Linked DNA regions of Homo sapiens. The protein of the gene in region 1 interacts with the protein of each later gene in a biochemical or structural test. Each region holds a gene or a part of one and is shown in the gene's direction. Other genes may lie near its edges.

Region 1 (4,282 bases):
CCTACTGTACTCTGATTAAAGTATTAATAAGGGGCCTTTGCTATTCTCAAACCTGAGAACTCTCTTAAAAAAAAATTGCAATAGTGATGGGGTCTTGCTATGTTGACCAGGCTGGTCTCAAACTACTGGCCTCAAGTGATCTTCCCATCTTAGCCTTCCAAAGTGCTGGGATTATAGGTGTGAGCCACCATGCCTGGCCAGAGAGCTCTCTTTATTTTGCCAGCACTGTATCCAAGATCCTTTTTCACCATCTAGTGGCTTTTTTTTTTTTTCCTTCTTGAGACAGGCTGGCTCCATCGCCCAGGCTGGAATGCAGTGATGCGATCTTAGCTTACTGCACCCTCAGCCTCCTGGGCTCAAGCCATCCTCCCACCTCAGCCTCCTGAGTAGCTGGGATTACGGGAATATGCCACCATGCCCGGCTAAGTGTTTTTTTATGGTTTTTTTTTGTTTGTTTTGTTTTTTGTTTTTTTTTTGTAGACTGGGTTTCGCCATGTTGCCCCGGCTGGTCCTGAACTCTTGAGCTCAGGAGATACACCCACCTTGGCCTCCCAAAGTGCTAGGATTACAGGCGTGAGCCACCACACCTGGCCTAGTGGCTGAATTTTTAAAATAGTTTTCTGCATTAGTAAATAACTTAGTCTTGTAGAAAAGCATCTATTGCTCACCTATCCCAGTGTACTTATAAATAGGGACCCATTTTATAAAGCCTGCTTTATTCCGCATCTTGATGAGTGCTCTACAGTGACATATCATTAGTGGCTTTCTAAGGTGTTAGTGATTATCAGAAGATACTACCATATTTGTCAGCACTTACTTAACTCTGCCTATAACACAAAACCAAGAATAGAGTGTTCATGACCATTTTCCTCACCATCTGAATGGAATCACATTAGGGTTCTCTTTCCCACAGAGATCTTGCAGCTCGTAACTGCCTAGTGGGAGAAAACCATGTGGTAAAAGTGGCTGACTTTGGCTTAAGTAGATTGATGACTGGAGACACTTATACTGCTCATGCTGGAGCCAAATTTCCTATTAAGTGGACAGCACCAGAGAGTCTTGCCTACAATACCTTCTCAATTAAATCTGACGTCTGGGGTAAGGTTGAAAGGGACTTTTTTCTGTGTCATTTTATTTTTTTTTTTATAAATGCCTTGATTCTTTAGAGCTTCTCTTACGATGTTCAGTATCCTCTACCTTTACCTGCCATTCTTCTTCAGTTATTCAGCAAGCATTTGTTAAATACCTCCTATCTGCCAGGACTGTGTTAAGAACTTTGCATAAACAGAAGTATAGGCCTGGTGTGGTGGCTCACGTTTGTAATTACAGCACTTTGGGCCGAGATGGGTGGATCACTTGAGGTCAAGAGTTCGAGACCAGCCTGGCCAACATGGTGAACTCCCATCTCTACTAACTACAAAAATTAGCCAGGCGTGGTGGCATGCGCCAGTAATCCCAGCTATTCAAGAGGCTGAAGGCTGAGGCAGGGGAGTTGCTTGAGCCTGGAGGGCAGAGGTTGCAGTGAGCCAAGATGGCGCCACTGCACTCCAGCCTGGGCAATAGAGCGAGACTCTGTCTAAAAAGAAAAAAAAAAAAAAAAGTATAAAGAAGAAAGTTTAGGGCCAGGCACAGTGGCTCATGCCTGTAATCCCAGCACTTTGGGAGGCCGAGGCAGGTGGACAACCTGAGGTCAGGAGTTTGAGACCAGCCTGACCAACATGGAAAAACCCTGTGTCTACTAAAAATACAAAATTAGCTGGGTGTGGTGATGCATGCCTGTAATCCCAGCTACTTGGGAGGCTGAGGTAGGAGAATCACTTGAACCCGGGAGGTGGAGGTTGCGGTGAGCTGAGATCACACCATTGTACTCCAGCCTGGGCAACAAGAACAAAACTCTGTCTCAAACAAAAAAAAAAAAGAAAGAAGAAAGTTTTAAAAAAGAAGTCCCTGCCTTCAGAGAGCTCACAGTCTAGATCTCTTATTGCATTGGAGTGCTAATGATCCTCCCTCTGTAAAGCATCCTATTTCCACATTAGGTTTTTTGTTTTTATTTTTGAGACAGAGCCTTGCTCTGTTGTCCAGGCTGGAGTGCAGTGGCACAATCTCAGCTCACTGCAACCTCCCATCTCCCGGGTTCAAGCGATTCTCCTGCCTCAGCCTCCAGAGTTGCTGGGACTACAGGCATGCATCACCATGCCCGGCTAATTTTTGTCATAGTAGTAGAGATGAGGTTTTGCCATGTTGGCCAGGCTGGTCTCGAACTCCTGACCTCAAATGATCCACCTGCCTTGGCCTCCCAAAGTGTTGGGATTACAGGCATGAGCCACTGTGCTCAGCCTCACATTAGGTTTTATCACTCATTTGCAGAGTACTGTGACACAGAGCTTTTTTTTTTTTCGAGGGAAGTGTGATGAGGTTTCCTCTAGAATTTGTCCTAATTGATCTGGTTTCTACTGCTCTGAGAGGTAATATGATTTGGTTGAAGCTTAGTAGACTGAACAATCTGGAAATTTGGATTGTGGACCAATAGAAATAGTCATAGGATTCTAAGTCATTTTTTACTGGAAATCTCAAACTCAAATAACTGAGACAAAATCAAACAAATTTTTTTCTGCTCTGAATTTTATCTGATTTTAAATGAATCCATTTTTATTTTACTCCTCTTGTATTAGCTGACTTTAAAACTGTTATGCTTCTTAGATACAGTGGTTCTCCTTTATCCTCAGGAGAATACATTCTAAGACCCCCCCCTTGGATGCCTGAAACCAAGGATAGTGTCAAGCCCTGGATATATAATCTTTTTTTGATCTGATAACCGAGAGGTCTTCTCAGTGACTAAGGGGTGGGTAGCATCTACGGTGTGGATATGTTGAGTAAAAGGATGATTTATGTGCGAGGCGGGAAGGAGAAGCATGGCTTGAGAGTTCATCATGCAACTCAAGGCAGCATGCAATTTAAAACTTTAGAATTGTTTATTTCTGGAATTTTCTATTTAATATTTTTGGACCTTGGTTGACTGTGAGTAGCTGAAACTGTGGGAAGTGAAACCATGGATAAGGGGTGACTACTGTATATCAAAAACTTTTCTAAGAATAGTTGGATTATGCCTCAGACTTCTTAAATGGTCATAGTTTATTTTCCCTCATTACAGTAAAGGAAATCTAAATAAAAATTGGGAAATTTAAATAAAACTGTCTTGAGATTATCTGCAGCATTCCTGTTGCAAATATTTTAGAAGGACAAATCATGCTGTAAGAATTGATAAAAGAGTATATTATATATTAATGTTGTTGTAACAGTGTGTGAATGTTACCTAAAATATGAAAGAGAATCACCTAATTATGTAAAATAAATAATCGGAGAAGAAACACTAAGTGCTTTTTTTAATTCCTTATGCAGCTTTTGGGGTATTGTTGTGGGAAATTGCTACCTATGGAATGTCACCATATCCAGGTATTGACCTGTCTCAGGTCTATGACCTACTAGAAAAAGGATATCGAATGGAACAGCCTGAGGGATGCCCCCCTAAGGTTTATGAACTTATGAGAGCATGTGAGTATTTTTGCATGTTTTAATTTTGAAGGCATAAGCTAGCAGTTCAGAATAGTTAACAAAATTAGAAACATTTCTCCTCTCAGTGTTGTTAGATTGAATCCAGCCTCATGACATTTAAAGAGTTTATCATTGATCAGCCAGTTGTCATATCATATACCATTGAATCTTATTGGAATCCTAAGCATAGTTGTTATGGCCCAAATATTGACCCAGTTTCTCAGAGACATTTGCATATTTAATAAGATAAGAAATTGAGTTTAGAGATTAAGGTGGGGAGGGCCGTTTTCAACTAGATAAAAATGATTGCTAAAGACTATGAAGAATGCATAAAAATAACCTCTGTGTAGATAAACAGAAGCATCCGATTGCTTGCAGATGAAAAAGTAGGAAAGTGAATAGTGGATTAAATTGCAGGGTTTTGTTTGTTTGTTTATTTGTGTTGTTGTTTTTCAAACACTCTTGCTTTGTTGCCCAGGCTGGAGTGCAGTGACGTGATTTCGGCTCAGTGACGTGATTTCGGCTCACTGAAACCTCTACCTCATGGGTTCAAGTGATTCTCATGCCTCAGCCCCTCAGTAGCTGGAACCACAGGCACGCACACCATGCCCAGCTAATTTTTTTTTTTTTGAGACGGACTCTCACTATGTTGCCCATGCTGGAGTGCAGTGGCACAATCTTTGCAACCTCCGTCCCCCAGGTTCAAGCGATTCTCCTGCCTCAGCCTCCC
Region 2 (4,282 bases), on another chromosome or scaffold:
TATGTGGCAAAAGTGGAAGGATTGAGGACAGGCTGAGTAGCAGGCCTGGTCTGGCTGGGGAAGCTGAGGAGGTACAGAGAAGCGTGCTCCCTTGGGAGGGAAGAAACTTTCCAGAGATTAAAGATGGGGCAGAAAGCAGGCAGGACTTAGATGAGATACCAGGAAAGACAGGGAGGTATTGTGGTTGCAGGAGTGTGTTTAGGGAATATCCTGAGTCCAAGGTGGTTTAAGTAATGTCTAGGTTGACCTAAGAGAGTGGCTCTTTCCCCTCACTGGGCAGGAAGGGTGATAGCGGCCGGGGGTAGGGGAGTGGGGGGAGGGGGGCAGCTGGGGGAGCGGTGCAGCTTCCTGGTAGGCCAGGAGCTAATGGATCATCTCTGCACCAGGACGCACCCTCGGCTCTGGGGCCTTTGGGCAGGTGGTGGAGGCCACGGCTCATGGCCTGAGCCATTCTCAGGCCACGATGAAAGTGGCCGTCAAGATGCTTAAATGTGAGTAGTCCTTGGAGCCCTCCACATCTGGGCCTTCACCTCTCCCTGCCCCTCCCCACACACTTAGCCTCTCCCAGGGTGGCCTGATGCTGATTTGCAGGCACTAGAGGGGCCATCACACTGCAGCAGGCACTGCTCCCGAGTCTGGGTCTGGTTTGGGAAAGAGCGTTCCTCTCCCTGGCCTCCTCGGCCTGCTTCCCCCTACCCTGGCCTCTTCCCCTCCTCAGAGTGTGGGTGCTCACCCCCGCCAGGCTGCCTGGGTCTTGCAGCACAGGGCGGGGCAGAAGAGTCAGAATAGGCTCCTGTGGTGGGGCCTCCATGGAGCCTCCATGACTGGGCCTGGCCTGGGGCCCCCATTTTCCTCAGCCACAGCCCGCAGCAGTGAGAAGCAAGCCCTTATGTCGGAGCTGAAGATCATGAGTCACCTTGGGCCCCACCTGAACGTGGTCAACCTGTTGGGGGCCTGCACCAAAGGAGGTACCGAGCCCACTGCCCCAGAGGCCTCAGGGAAAGTGCCCACCACCAAGGCCAGGCCCCGCCTACCCCCCCCTCAGGCCTTGCACAACAGCACACTCCTGCTGGAGGGTCCGTGCCCACCCGCTCCAGCGCCCTCACTGCGCGGTCCCAGAGGGCGGTGGGGTTTAGAAACTCACAAAATCACAACACCTTCAAGGCTGAAGGATTAGTCAGGTCACCAGTCCCAGCAGCTTCCAGACCATGGTGTTGGCTGACACTTTTTTATTTTCCCAATACATTTTGAAAACCAATAAATAACAGCTCACATGACATTAAGATGAGTTATATGCCCACCATTGGAGACCACCAGCTTGCTACTTGGGAGCTACCTTCATTTGATCATAGAAGAAAGTCTCTGTGGCCAACTGGGTCTATTTGAAGCTCTGATTGCCAGTTAGGCTGAAAAAAAATGTTATCACCATTTGCAGCTGCTTATTGTGAGATTTGGGATTTTCCTCAGCATTATGCAACCAAAATAAAATACAGAAGTATGTTGGGTACATAGACTTATTCACGTTTGCAATGATCGCTCATTTCAACATTTTCGTTTGTGTAGATATCTTCAAGTTCTCACTGATTGACTTTAAGTAAATGCATTGTAGTTGAATTTAACTACTAAAGTGATCGTTGTAAACAGTGGCCTTTATCTGCTTTCTATACTGGGCTCCAAAGTAAGCTTTAGTTTGAAAACATATCAATAAGAGCCAACACTGCGAGCTCGCCACGTGCCCAGCCAATAAAGACATCATCTCATTAATCCTCATGACAGTGCTTTGTGGTGGGTTTAATTAGCCCCACTTAACAGCTGGGGAAGGTAAGGCTCAGGGAGACTAAGTACCTTGCTCTCCACCACAGAGGCAGGAAAAGAATCCAGATTTGCAAGGCACTAAAGCCTCCTAGCCGTCATGCCAAAGTGTCTCTCCCACATCCAGCCCCTGATTAGCCTCATGGCCTTGAAGGGACGCCTGAGGCCTCCATAGGGACTGTCCCTGAGCCTGTCCCTCTGCAGGACCCATCTATATCATCACTGAGTACTGCCGCTACGGAGACCTGGTGGACTACCTGCACCGCAACAAACACACCTTCCTGCAGCACCACTCCGACAAGCGCCGCCCGCCCAGCGCGGAGCTCTACAGCAATGCTCTGCCCGTTGGGCTCCCCCTGCCCAGGTACCAGGAGGGAGGCCAGGGACTGAATCTTTGGGATACCTGAGGAGCACCGCTCCTTCCCCTCCTTTTGTCCAGGAGGGGAAGCTGAGGCTGTGACAGGGCAGGGGACAGAATCACTCCTGGAGCTAGGGCTGTTCCACAAGATGGTCCACCCCAGATGAGGGAATAACACTAATGCCAGGCCCTGTGCTGCTAAGCCCTCTACAGATGTGACATGCCATCCCTGTGTCGTGGGTGTTTGCCCTTCAGTCCAGGGCAGGCAGTGATGGAGGAAGGGGCAGAGGCTGTGGTGAGATGAGAGCCAAGCCTCCCAATTTGCACAGTGGTGCTCCAGGCTGTGTTCCTCTCTGCAGCCTCTACACATCAGCCTCCACACTGCCTCTCAGGGAGCTCAACTCCAGTCTTTGTCTTTTCCAAAAAGAACACTTCTTAGTTCTGTTGCTGATTACAAAAACAAAGACAAGAGTAGCTTCAGAAAAGCGTAAAAGACCTTAAAACCCACTCATGTCCTCTCCAATGTTTTGACATTCAGTCTCCCAGGAGCCAAAGGGCTTCTCCCATCTTTTTCCTGCCTATAGAGACAGATGTGTGTAGAGCCCCACAGCTCTTTGGGGAGCTGATGCTACAGGCATAGGTAGCGGGGTGAATCCTGGCTGCCTATGCTGGGTTGCAGTCAGGCACTCCCATGGCCAGGTGGCGCTGGGGAGGCCACAGGAAGGCGCCTCTGAACACACCCGTCTTGTGACCTTTGCCCTGGGGTGCTGTAATCGCCTCTGGGTGTGAGCTCTCTGGGTTCTAACTGTCATTTTGGTAGCCTCAGTGCCCAGCTTGGCCCAGCAGGTTGGTTGAAAAGTCTTGATCCACAGGCTTTCCTACTGGGATAGACTGAAGGAAGATGAGTGAGTGTGTGAGTGAGAGAAGAAATTCATGAGTGGCAAGGGGCAGGAGGGGAGGGGAAGGCAAAGCCTGCAGGCTCTCCTGTGATGCTCCTTTACCCCCAGCCATGTGTCCTTGACCGGGGAGAGCGACGGTGGCTACATGGACATGAGCAAGGACGAGTCGGTGGACTATGTGCCCATGCTGGACATGAAAGGAGACGTCAAATATGCAGACATCGAGTCCTCCAACTACATGGCCCCTTACGATAACTACGTTCCCTCTGGTGGGTGGACATAGTGACATAGTACCCCACATCCAAACAGGCTGATGCTCTTCACATGCCCAGCCTTGCCAAAAACCCTGAGAAGAAGGGAGCCTCGTGCCCATTTCATAGATGTAGAAATTGAGGCTAGCCACCTGGCCAAAACTGATCTGTAGTGGACCCCTAAACGGAAGCCCTGTTTATGGATCCGGAAACATGCGTAGAACCCTCAGGGAGGGAGAGAGCAGGGATATGGGAGGACCTGGCCTTTTGTCGTGGTAGGGAAAGTGATCTACTCAGCTTCAGCCCCAGGCTGGTCTAGTGTCCCTGAGAGGCAGGCAGGCAGGCCAGGCTGGGCAAAAGTGGCCCAAGGGCTAATGCCAAAAGGCCAATGAGGGCACTGATAAAGCAGGAGAACTTTGAGTTTGATATTAAGAAATCATTCTCCTTTTAGGGGAGACCTAGACGATCAGTAGCCACCTGTCTTGGACATTCAGTCTCCCAGGAGCCAAAGGGCAGGGGTCCTGTGGGCCAGAAGGAGATATAAGATAGCAGGTGACCCTCTGCTTCTCCTCTAGCCCCTGAGAGGACCTGCCGAGCAACTTTGATCAACGAGTCTCCAGTGCTAAGCTACATGGACCTCGTGGGCTTCAGCTACCAGGTGGCCAATGGCATGGAGTTTCTGGCCTCCAAGAACGTACGTGTGGTGTTGGTGGGGCAGAGTGGGGGCTGTGGGGAGGTGGGTCACCCAGCCAGCCAGCATCCTCCAAGAGCACACCAGGGTGGCCTCTCGCACATGGGCAGTGTTGTATTTTCCCAAAGCCCTTGACATGAAGGGTCTTTCCCCACAATTGTCCCCAAGGCCTCAGCTCCCCTCTCCCCAAACCCAGTGCGTCCACAGAGACCTGGCGGCTAGGAACGTGCTCATCTGTGAAGGCAAGCTGGTCAAGATCTGTGACTTTGGC
Region 3 (4,282 bases), on another chromosome or scaffold:
CACCAAGCCCTTAGGGCAGAGTTTCTTCATGGGTTTTGCTCAGTGCAAAATAAATAGTCACTTCTCAGTAATAAATGATAGATACACTGACTAATGTTAGTTCAGAATCACTTTGATGATGTGTTCTCAACTGACACTGAGTTGCTGCTAGATCCACATTTGCCTGACCAAAAATAGCTAGGACCTATAGGTAGAGTATCATATGTGCTAGGTACTACAGCATTTTCTTTAAAAGAAAGAAATGGAATCTGCCCTTGAGAAGTTTATGATCTAGATACACAGACAAATATCACATATTAAATGAACACAAATTCATAATTATTAAGAGGACATCACATGAGAAACGCTTTCAAAATCATCCTATTTGCTATGAAATAATAGAATTTTTTTTTAAAAATCAAAGTTTGGAACTTAAAAACCTTAACATTTTCAAGCTGTTTCTGCATACATCACCTTTCTGATACCAAAACGACCTTACAAGATAGGCAAGTCTGATAACATCTTAACATTCTTATGTTATAGACAAGGAAACTGAGCTTGAGACTAGCTCCATGCTATTTCAATAGCACCATACCACCTTTCCTCAGCCATCAACTATTGGAAACATTTTCCATGGAGGCATCATTAGGGATGCTTAAGATAGTGGTAAATGATGAATATAACATATCTAGTCCCTGGAGTTTTTGTCACCTTCTCTTTCTCCAGTTCTCTCTCTCTTTTTTTTTTTTAATTTCTTTTCTTTTCTTTTTTTCTTTTCTTTGTAGTGAGACATACCGAGAAAAGGTTTCATTCATATGTGTGGGGCATTCTGCTCCTGTTATCAGATTAAGAGCCGTGAATAATTTTGTAATCTATCCTTCTATCAGAAAGCCCATTCTCAGATATCTTTTCAGCTGTGTTAAACAGGTTAGTATATTCCGCTTGGGATTTGTTTCAATAAAAACATCCAGTAAAATCTGACTACTTTGCTTTTCATGGGACAAAATGAAAAAAGTGCTTTTATAAGCTGTAAAACTTAATTGAGAGAAAAAATCACGTGTGGCATTTGTAGCAGGAGGTATGAGCTCAGTGAAATAAAAAAGTTAACTTTGTAATCACATACCCAGGTACACATATTTCTCTCTGTGATTGCATAAATGTGTGCAAGTATGTTTATGTAGGTTACTCCCATTGATTTTAATTTCTATAATAAATTATGTAGCTATAGGGCCCACAGGCGATTATATAATGGGCAATAGAATTTGAAAATGTATCTCTCCTAATATAATTAAGGATAGCAATTATGAAATGTGCTTAGAGAATCACAAGTTATCGTGAAAGCCAGGTTCCTGTACTCCAAGAATGTGAATGAGGATTTAGTCATTCATTCAGGACAATTTTTTGACAACCTACGAGGCATAGTTCTAAAATCTGGCATTTCCACAGAGTATAAAACAGATGAAAACCTCTAACCTCATGACACTCTGTTCTATTGAGTTGGCAAACAATAAAGAAATACATAACTGAAATGTGTTGTATGTCAGGTGATGATAATAGCTTCAAGGTAGAATAAAATGGAAAAGAGAATAGTGACTGTCAAGGATAAGAGAGAGTGGGATGGTGATTGAAAAACTCAATAGTGAGGTCAGGGAAGGCTTGTCTTCAAAGGTGGGCTTTGGGCTAGAATCTGAAGGAGATAAGGAAGTGAGCCAGGCGCATATGAGGAGCACTTCTCAGGAGTGCTATTCTCATCTTGTTTTTCCTGAAATTGTGCAGTTCACAGCTTGCACAACTGTCCATAGACTCCCTGATTTTGGAGGGAGATACCTGAATAGTGCCCCTGTTTTTGTAGGGAAATACCTGGACAGTGCCTGCCATCATTAGCTACCATGTTAAAGATGAAGATACAGGAGTGGCCCACATCTCTTGGTTTATGAGACATGGAAGAAGAAGACCCAGAGTGTTGTTTTGTTTTTTTTTTTGTTTTTTTGTTTTGTTTTGTTTTGTTTTGTTTTGCATCCGCCTGGTCCCATCCCATACTCCATCCTCTATCAGAGATATTGCTCCATTCAGACAATTTTCCTTCTTATTTTCCACACTGTGAGCCTGTCACAGTGGGATTTGTTGAGAAGGATACCCATGGCTTTTTTCACTGATCCCTTCCATAGTATAAATCTAAAGACAGCAAGAGGCAGTTGCTGATGGTGTGCAGCTTCTGTCTGCTATGCACTTCTTTCTTTCCCCCTCGCTCTCCTTCCTTTTCCTTTCCAGTATTAAGTCACTGCATTGGATTTTCTTCCTCTTTTCTTCCTTTTCCCTTATTCCCCTATTTATATCCTGTATCAAGATTTGCAAACAGGTAACTTAAATGAGGAAAACTAACCATTTCACTAGGGATTGACAAACTGCTTAGGAAAAGCAGAGGGGCAGTCACTGCTTGGCGTGATTAGAGCTGTTGTGAGGCTCAGTGTATGGCATGGGCCCATGTGGTAGTATCTTTCAGATTTTCAAGAGAAGCTAGGACTCTCCCAATTTTAAAATGTTGACTCAGTGTCTTTAAAACACCATACAGCTTACAGTGGCAGAAAGTCTGCAAGCCAGATTGGGCTCCTGATGGTCCCAATTGCAGCAGCATGCATGGCCCGAGAGCCCCAGGACTGCTTCTACAAAATATTTTATTTTCTAAAATTCTCAGAAAATTAACTAAACAAATTTTTTAAAACCAATATTTTATGTCAGTTCCTATTGGCACGTGGTTATTTTTCTAAACTCATCAGCCCACATACTTTACATCAAACTATGTACGTTTCTAAACTAAAGGGTAATCTAGTTATTTCATTCTTAAACTGAAGTAGTAGTTTTCTGAAACCTGAATCCATCATGGCTTTATGCATCAATTTCATTTCCAAGTTCTCTGATTCAGGATAAACTCCCCCTTTGGAATATTGTCTTTCTCTCTCTCTCTCTCTGTCTCTCTCTCTCTCTGTCTCTGTCTCTGGAAATGACTGAACTTCACCCGTTGTTATTACCCTGCCATTGAAATTCAAAACATGCACTGCCCTCCTGGTTTCCAGTGCCCTTTAAAAGCAATCAGATCAGTGTTAAAATCTATTTTTCCAAAGGAATAAAAGCTCACAGGTTGTGCACTAATTTGTTTCCTTTAATCCTAAAATCTCAGTGAAATGCCCAAGCTAGCAGCCCTCCAGAAGGCCACTGTGTTAGAAAGGGAGATTATGTACTGTATTTCTTCCTACTATTTTAAATGCAAATATAATAATATATCATGAAACAGTGCACATACAGTATACATATTAAGATCAGTGGTCTATTCCTGTTTTGAAATGGTCTCCTACTCCTTAATAGTTGGAATTCTGAGGCAGCACCTAGACTCTCAGGTCCAATTTGAAAATGTATGTTTTTTTTTAAAAAAGAATGACTTGGGGAATAACTGTTTGATAAGACCGTGGAAGATTTCTAATTTTTAATATTTTATTAAAAATGTAAAGAAAGACATTCAAAGCTGAGACCTTTGAAATAATATGGTCTTTGCAAGTCAGAGAAAAAGAGAAGTGGTAAATTTATTAGAGATAGGTTGCCTCCTTTGAGGCCTAATCATGTGGGAAAGGAAAACCCAGCCAAGGTTTGGGTCCATAAGACAATTCAACCTAGCTTTAAAAATAGGTTTTGGCTTTGCTTGGGACCAGCATTGGGACCAGAGTGTATCTAGACCAGCATTTTAGCTATTAAATTTTAAACCTAGGGGTCTTTTAAGGGAAATTTAATCCATGTGTCTTTGATTCACTAAATCTTAAATCATTACTCACAAACTGTATGTCCCTCTAAGCTCTTTGATGTCCAAGAGATCTCTAAAATTGTGTAAGGCCTTTTTGTTCCAGAAAAAAATAGGAAGTTGGTTTTTGCTAAGCGTCAATAAACAGCATCCTCAAAAATCTGATTAGGTCTAAAATCTTGCAACCATGACAGTATGGATGTTTGAATGATGCAATGTGAAAATTTTAAGCACTTTTTAAAGTCCTTGTTTACCAGTAATACTCAGTTGTAATCCTTACTAACCCCAAGGAAATTATTTTGACACATTTCCTCTCTGTTTTGTAATATAAATACAAAGCCCAAATATTCATCATTTTATTCTGGCACATAGTAGGTACTCAGTAAGTATTTTGTAGAGTGTTGAATGACTCTTTCTTCTGCCCAGAAACTTCTAGCTAATGTCAGTTCTTCTATTCAATATTGATATCCATCTGTCATACCTTGGAATAAGATCTATTCTAAGTCAGTGACC
Region 4 (4,282 bases), on another chromosome or scaffold:
CAGGTGTGAGGCTGGAGTCATTCTCAGCAGCTGGACACAAGGCACTCTAAATTATTATCCTGCTGGAAATAAGAGACCCCAGATAATTCATTTATCCCTATTCTGTTTTTTCCCCCACTCATTCCCATTTTTTTTCTCATGACTCTGTAAATCATGTAATGCTATGCATTTATAGCATGCTTTCTAATGGGCCTTAAGTTTCGTATGACATGTGTGGTGTACATAGTTGTTGCTCTTCAGTTGGAAACTGTGTGCCAGGCCTTTTGCTTGGGGCTTTACCTATTTCTAGTAGTCTCAATGAGCCTAGGAAGTAGTACTATTATTACCCCTAACATTTTACAGCTGGAGAAACTGGCTAAGGATAAGCCCTAAATCATCAGTGGTGAAGCCTGATGAGATTGGCTGCATGTGCCCAGCTCTATAGCCATTCACATGATTCACCAGAATCTGTTGTAAGACTCATTCAAAAATATTTAATGAGTTTTTACTATGTGCCAGGGATTGTTGGAAGTTCTGGGAATACAGGATGGCCAATGTCACTACCTTCCCAATTTTGGTGAAAAATATTTAGAATTGCGTGTCTTATGAAAGCGGATTATTTGTGGAGGGAGGATTAATTAAATTTTAGCTTGGAGGAAGGGCTGTAGGCATTTGACCCTGTGGTATGTTGGCTTAGTTGTTAGCTATCTCATTCCAGTTAGCGTCCCTCAGAAATGAAGGTAAGCTGTTTCTAAAAGGATGATGCAAGCCAGTTAAAAATCCATCTCCCACTCCAAAACATAAAAATGGTCTTGTGCATAGGTGTGAAAGAGAACACCCCCAATAATGGCTGATGTCATTGGCTATTTACCCTGGATAGCATGGTGAGAAATAATGACAATCTACCATCCAAAGCCATTTTTTCTCCCAAAAGAAATTCTCATCAGAAATGTGCCAAGTATTCTGCGGGCTTCCCTTGGAGAACATTTATGTACAGATGTTGTGGTGGTGATGAATTTTGCTGCTGTTGTTGACAGCCCTTCGAAGTTACCCTTAGGGTTTTGACTCATTTCCTCAAGTCTCTTCCAGCTGATTAAAGAAGGACACGAGGAAATGAACCTCGGTGTCTCTAGCGGAATTCTCAGAGCTGGCCTGCAGTGTGGGGACCCCTTCAAGGTAGTGGTCAAGGCTGTGGCAGCTTTTTCTTCAGAATGAATGTAGTTTAAGAGTTGGCAGGCTAGGATGTGGGAAATGCTTTCTTTTGCTGCATTAATGTGCGGTAACTTTTAAAAGTTGAGATTGAATGACATTTGCAGGAATCCAAATATGCAAATTTCATGTGCAGTTTTGGTAACTTGAATAGATATTGCCACAGCTATAAGTCCGGATTGAAGAAGGCCTGGGGAAGAGTTAGAGGAGGTAAAAGTTTGCCTGGAGGGCAAATCCAGTGTAAATCTTTGTTGTACTTAGAGAGGAATTGAGTTGAGTCATAGAGAGGAATTGAGTTGAGTCGGCTTGGCCCAGCAGCTCTGATTTCTGACATTTTTTGGATGTGATCATACAGCTCATCTTTTGACCTAAGACTCTTAATAAGTAAAGAGCAGTTGTAATCTGATAGCCCGAGGAGACATGTTTTCTTTGGCCTACATGATGCTTTTTAGAAAACATTGAGGCGATATTAAACAATCTAGAGATTTTTTTTAAATCAAGATCTCTATTTCTGTCTCCTCTTTAAGAATTGAAGGTCATGGCCCCTGTAGATGAGGCCTGTGCTCTTCAGGTTGCATTAGGCTCTAGGGCTTTATCCTGCCATCCCTTAGGCATTCCCCACTGGGCCCTGGTGAGTGCAGGAATCCAAATATGCCCCTGGGACCAGGCAGATGACAAGTGGGAGGAGACAGGCCGGCCTACCTTGTGTTGGTCTGATGGCTTCATGACTGACAGCTTGATGGCCTTAGAGCAAATTGTTTAACCTTTTTGAGCTTTCATTGTCCATCCTAGTTTTGCCACTTATTAGCTCTGTGACTTTCGGCAGATTACTTAACCTCTCTGTGCCAGTAAATGTGTTGCTACATGTAAAACTTTTAGAGTGGTGCCTCATAGTACAGGCTCAATATGTGTTAGCCATAATTATCGTCTGTAAAACAGGAATTATTATTGTCCCTAAAATGGGAATAATGCCTACTCTTTTAAGATGATTGCCCTAAAGATTAGAAAGGCATTTTTTTTGTTTGTTTTAAAGACAGTATCTTGCCCTGTTGCCCAGGCTGGAGTGCAATGGCGCAATCTCGTCTCACTGCAACCTCCACCTCCTGGGTTCAAGCGATTCTCCTGCCTCAGCCTCCTGAGTAGCTGGGATTACAGGCACCCGCCACCATGCTCGGCTAATTTTTGTACTTTTAGTAGAGATGGGGTTTCACCATGTTGGCCTGGCTGGTCTCGAACCCCTGACCTCAGGTGATCTACCTGCCTCGGCCTCCCAAAGTGCTAGGATTACAGGCATGAGCCACCATGCCTGGCCGACAGTTTTAAAAATAAGCTTTAATTTTTTTGGTCTTGTTTTATTTAGCTTTTGATAAGAGTTAGGAAATCACTAGTCCTAGAGATTGAATAGATCTTGAACTTTTTTTTTCTCCAGGGGGGAAAAAAAAAAACTACACATCTTGTAAGATTCTCCAACATAACATTTGTGTCTGGTACTTTTCCCATTCATCTTATGTTTTAGCTTTCATGCTTACATTTTGGTTATGACACACTTTTGTTAGACATCTTCCCATGCATACCTTTCTGACAGGTTTTCAACATTTTTGCAAAATTTAAGGTTTAAGCCAAATTATTATTCAGGACATGTGGCATCAGTTAATTACGAGCTTGGGCTCTGAAATTGACACGCTGGATTTTTATTCCAGTTCTGCCTCTTCCCTGCTGTGTGCTCTGGGACAAGACACTTAACCTCTCCTTAAGCTTCATTTCCTCATCTGTAAAATGGAGATGATGACATAGGGCCCCTGCGAGGATTAAATGAGATTCTGCATGTAATATGCTTAGCATAGTGCCCCGCATAGAGGAAGTGTGTGGACTCCACTATCAGGCTGATTTTCTTATGTTCCCCTTTCAGCTTTGCCTCTTAGAAAAAAATTGAAAACGTGTAAACAGAATATGTAGAGTGGTTTTTTTTTTTCGTATTAAGATGAAGTTGTTAATTAGTGGTAATGCATGTTTATCTGCTTGGCTCTTTGTTTAGCCGTATTCTTGGGTTACTTTCCACCAAAAGAGATACAAATTTCTTGATAAAAGTTTAGGTTGGGGGAATGTCTGCAAATGGCCATTTTCTGTAGGTGAATAAGTACATGTAGTTCACCTAGGGTCCATGAAAGCAGTCAAGGAGCTTTTCCATGACTGCTTTCACTAGGAGTTCAAGGACCAAGCTGAACTTGTCCATTGCCCCAGGCTAGACACAGCGGTTAGTGTTCAGTAAGTATTAGTTTAACATCTTTTCTATTCTCCAGCACTTACACTAAGCTTTGAACATAAATGGTCAGTAAACATTTTGGATTCAGTTTAACAAAGGCTTATCAATCCCCATGCCTTGGTCCTACGTTACAGGCTGGGGGTGGAGGAGGGCCAGGGCAAGAGCACAGCCCCTGATTCGAAGTAGAATTTGGTTTTCTTAAGTGTAAAGTGCTCTGGGCAGGATTTTCAAGGAGATGAGCTTAAATCTTGATGGGCAGGTAATAGAGATCAGGAATCAGTAAGAGCATCCACATAGGAGATAATATTTGAGATTAATTTCTGAACCTTAAAGGAAGAGGGCAGTGTAGTTGTGGCTTCAGCTGAAAAAAACTACAGTACAAGGAACAAGGCATTAGGATCTTACTTCAGGATTATCAAACCTTTCTATTGGTATGATGGCTGGGGGTAGGGAATTGGCTGGGAAGGTAAGACTCCTCTTACTAGCCTCAAGGAGCATGGAGGGAATGTGTATTTAGTGCTGAGTTTGGTCTAGGTTATGAAGAATGCTTTGAAGTCAAGGCTAAGGTGGACTTGACCCAGGAGTGGCCCCCCAGGCTTTGCATACTAGTCCAGGGCTGCCTGTTCCACCATTCTGTCCAATTAGACATACTCCCCAGCCTGTTCCAATAGTCTGACGAAGCGAGAGGCCAAGCCCTGCCTTAAAACTTGGACACTCCCTTGCTGTGGGCAACCAAGACTAAGGGAGAGTCTGTTTTTATTATTTATTTATTTATTTATTTATTTATTTATTTATTTATTTATGAGACAGGGTCTTGCTCTGTTGCCAGGC

The links.
Region 2: of the proteins of ABL2 (region 1) and PDGFRB, one has a biochemical effect on the other in vitro, tested with the Homo sapiens proteins (one study listed by BioGRID).
Region 3: the proteins of ABL2 (region 1) and MET form a complex in vitro, tested with the Homo sapiens proteins (one large-scale study listed by BioGRID and IntAct).
Region 4: the proteins of ABL2 (region 1) and KIT form a complex in vitro, tested with the Homo sapiens proteins (one large-scale study listed by BioGRID and IntAct).

Annotation. Positions count from the first base shown.
Region 1 is NC_000001.11:179,114,148-179,118,429, reverse strand, and holds part of ABL2 (tyrosine-protein kinase ABL2), read left to right. Parts: intron 1-913; coding exon 914-1,098; intron 1,099-3,399; coding exon 3,400-3,552; intron 3,553-4,282. UniProt on the Homo sapiens protein: Non-receptor tyrosine-protein kinase that plays an ABL1-overlapping role in key processes linked to cell growth and survival such as cytoskeleton remodeling in response to extracellular stimuli, cell motility and adhesion and receptor endocytosis.
Region 2 is NC_000005.10:150,120,936-150,125,217, reverse strand, and holds part of PDGFRB (platelet-derived growth factor receptor beta isoform 1 precursor), read left to right. Parts: intron 1-386; coding exon 387-491; intron 492-857; coding exon 858-968; intron 969-2,016; coding exon 2,017-2,176; intron 2,177-3,177; coding exon 3,178-3,338; intron 3,339-3,895; coding exon 3,896-4,014; intron 4,015-4,207; coding exon 4,208-4,282. UniProt on the Homo sapiens protein: Tyrosine-protein kinase that acts as a cell-surface receptor for homodimeric PDGFB and PDGFD and for heterodimers formed by PDGFA and PDGFB, and plays an essential role in the regulation of embryonic development, cell proliferation, survival, differentiation, chemotaxis and migration.
Region 3 is NC_000007.14:116,675,039-116,679,320, forward strand, and holds part of MET (hepatocyte growth factor receptor isoform b preproprotein), read left to right. Parts: intron 1-4,282. UniProt on the Homo sapiens protein: Receptor tyrosine kinase that transduces signals from the extracellular matrix into the cytoplasm by binding to hepatocyte growth factor/HGF ligand. Regulates many physiological processes including proliferation, scattering, morphogenesis and survival.
Region 4 is NC_000004.12:54,660,373-54,664,654, forward strand, and holds part of KIT (mast/stem cell growth factor receptor Kit isoform 1 precursor), read left to right. Parts: intron 1-4,282. UniProt on the Homo sapiens protein: Tyrosine-protein kinase that acts as a cell-surface receptor for the cytokine KITLG/SCF and plays an essential role in the regulation of cell survival and proliferation, hematopoiesis, stem cell maintenance, gametogenesis, mast cell development, migration and function, and in melanogenesis.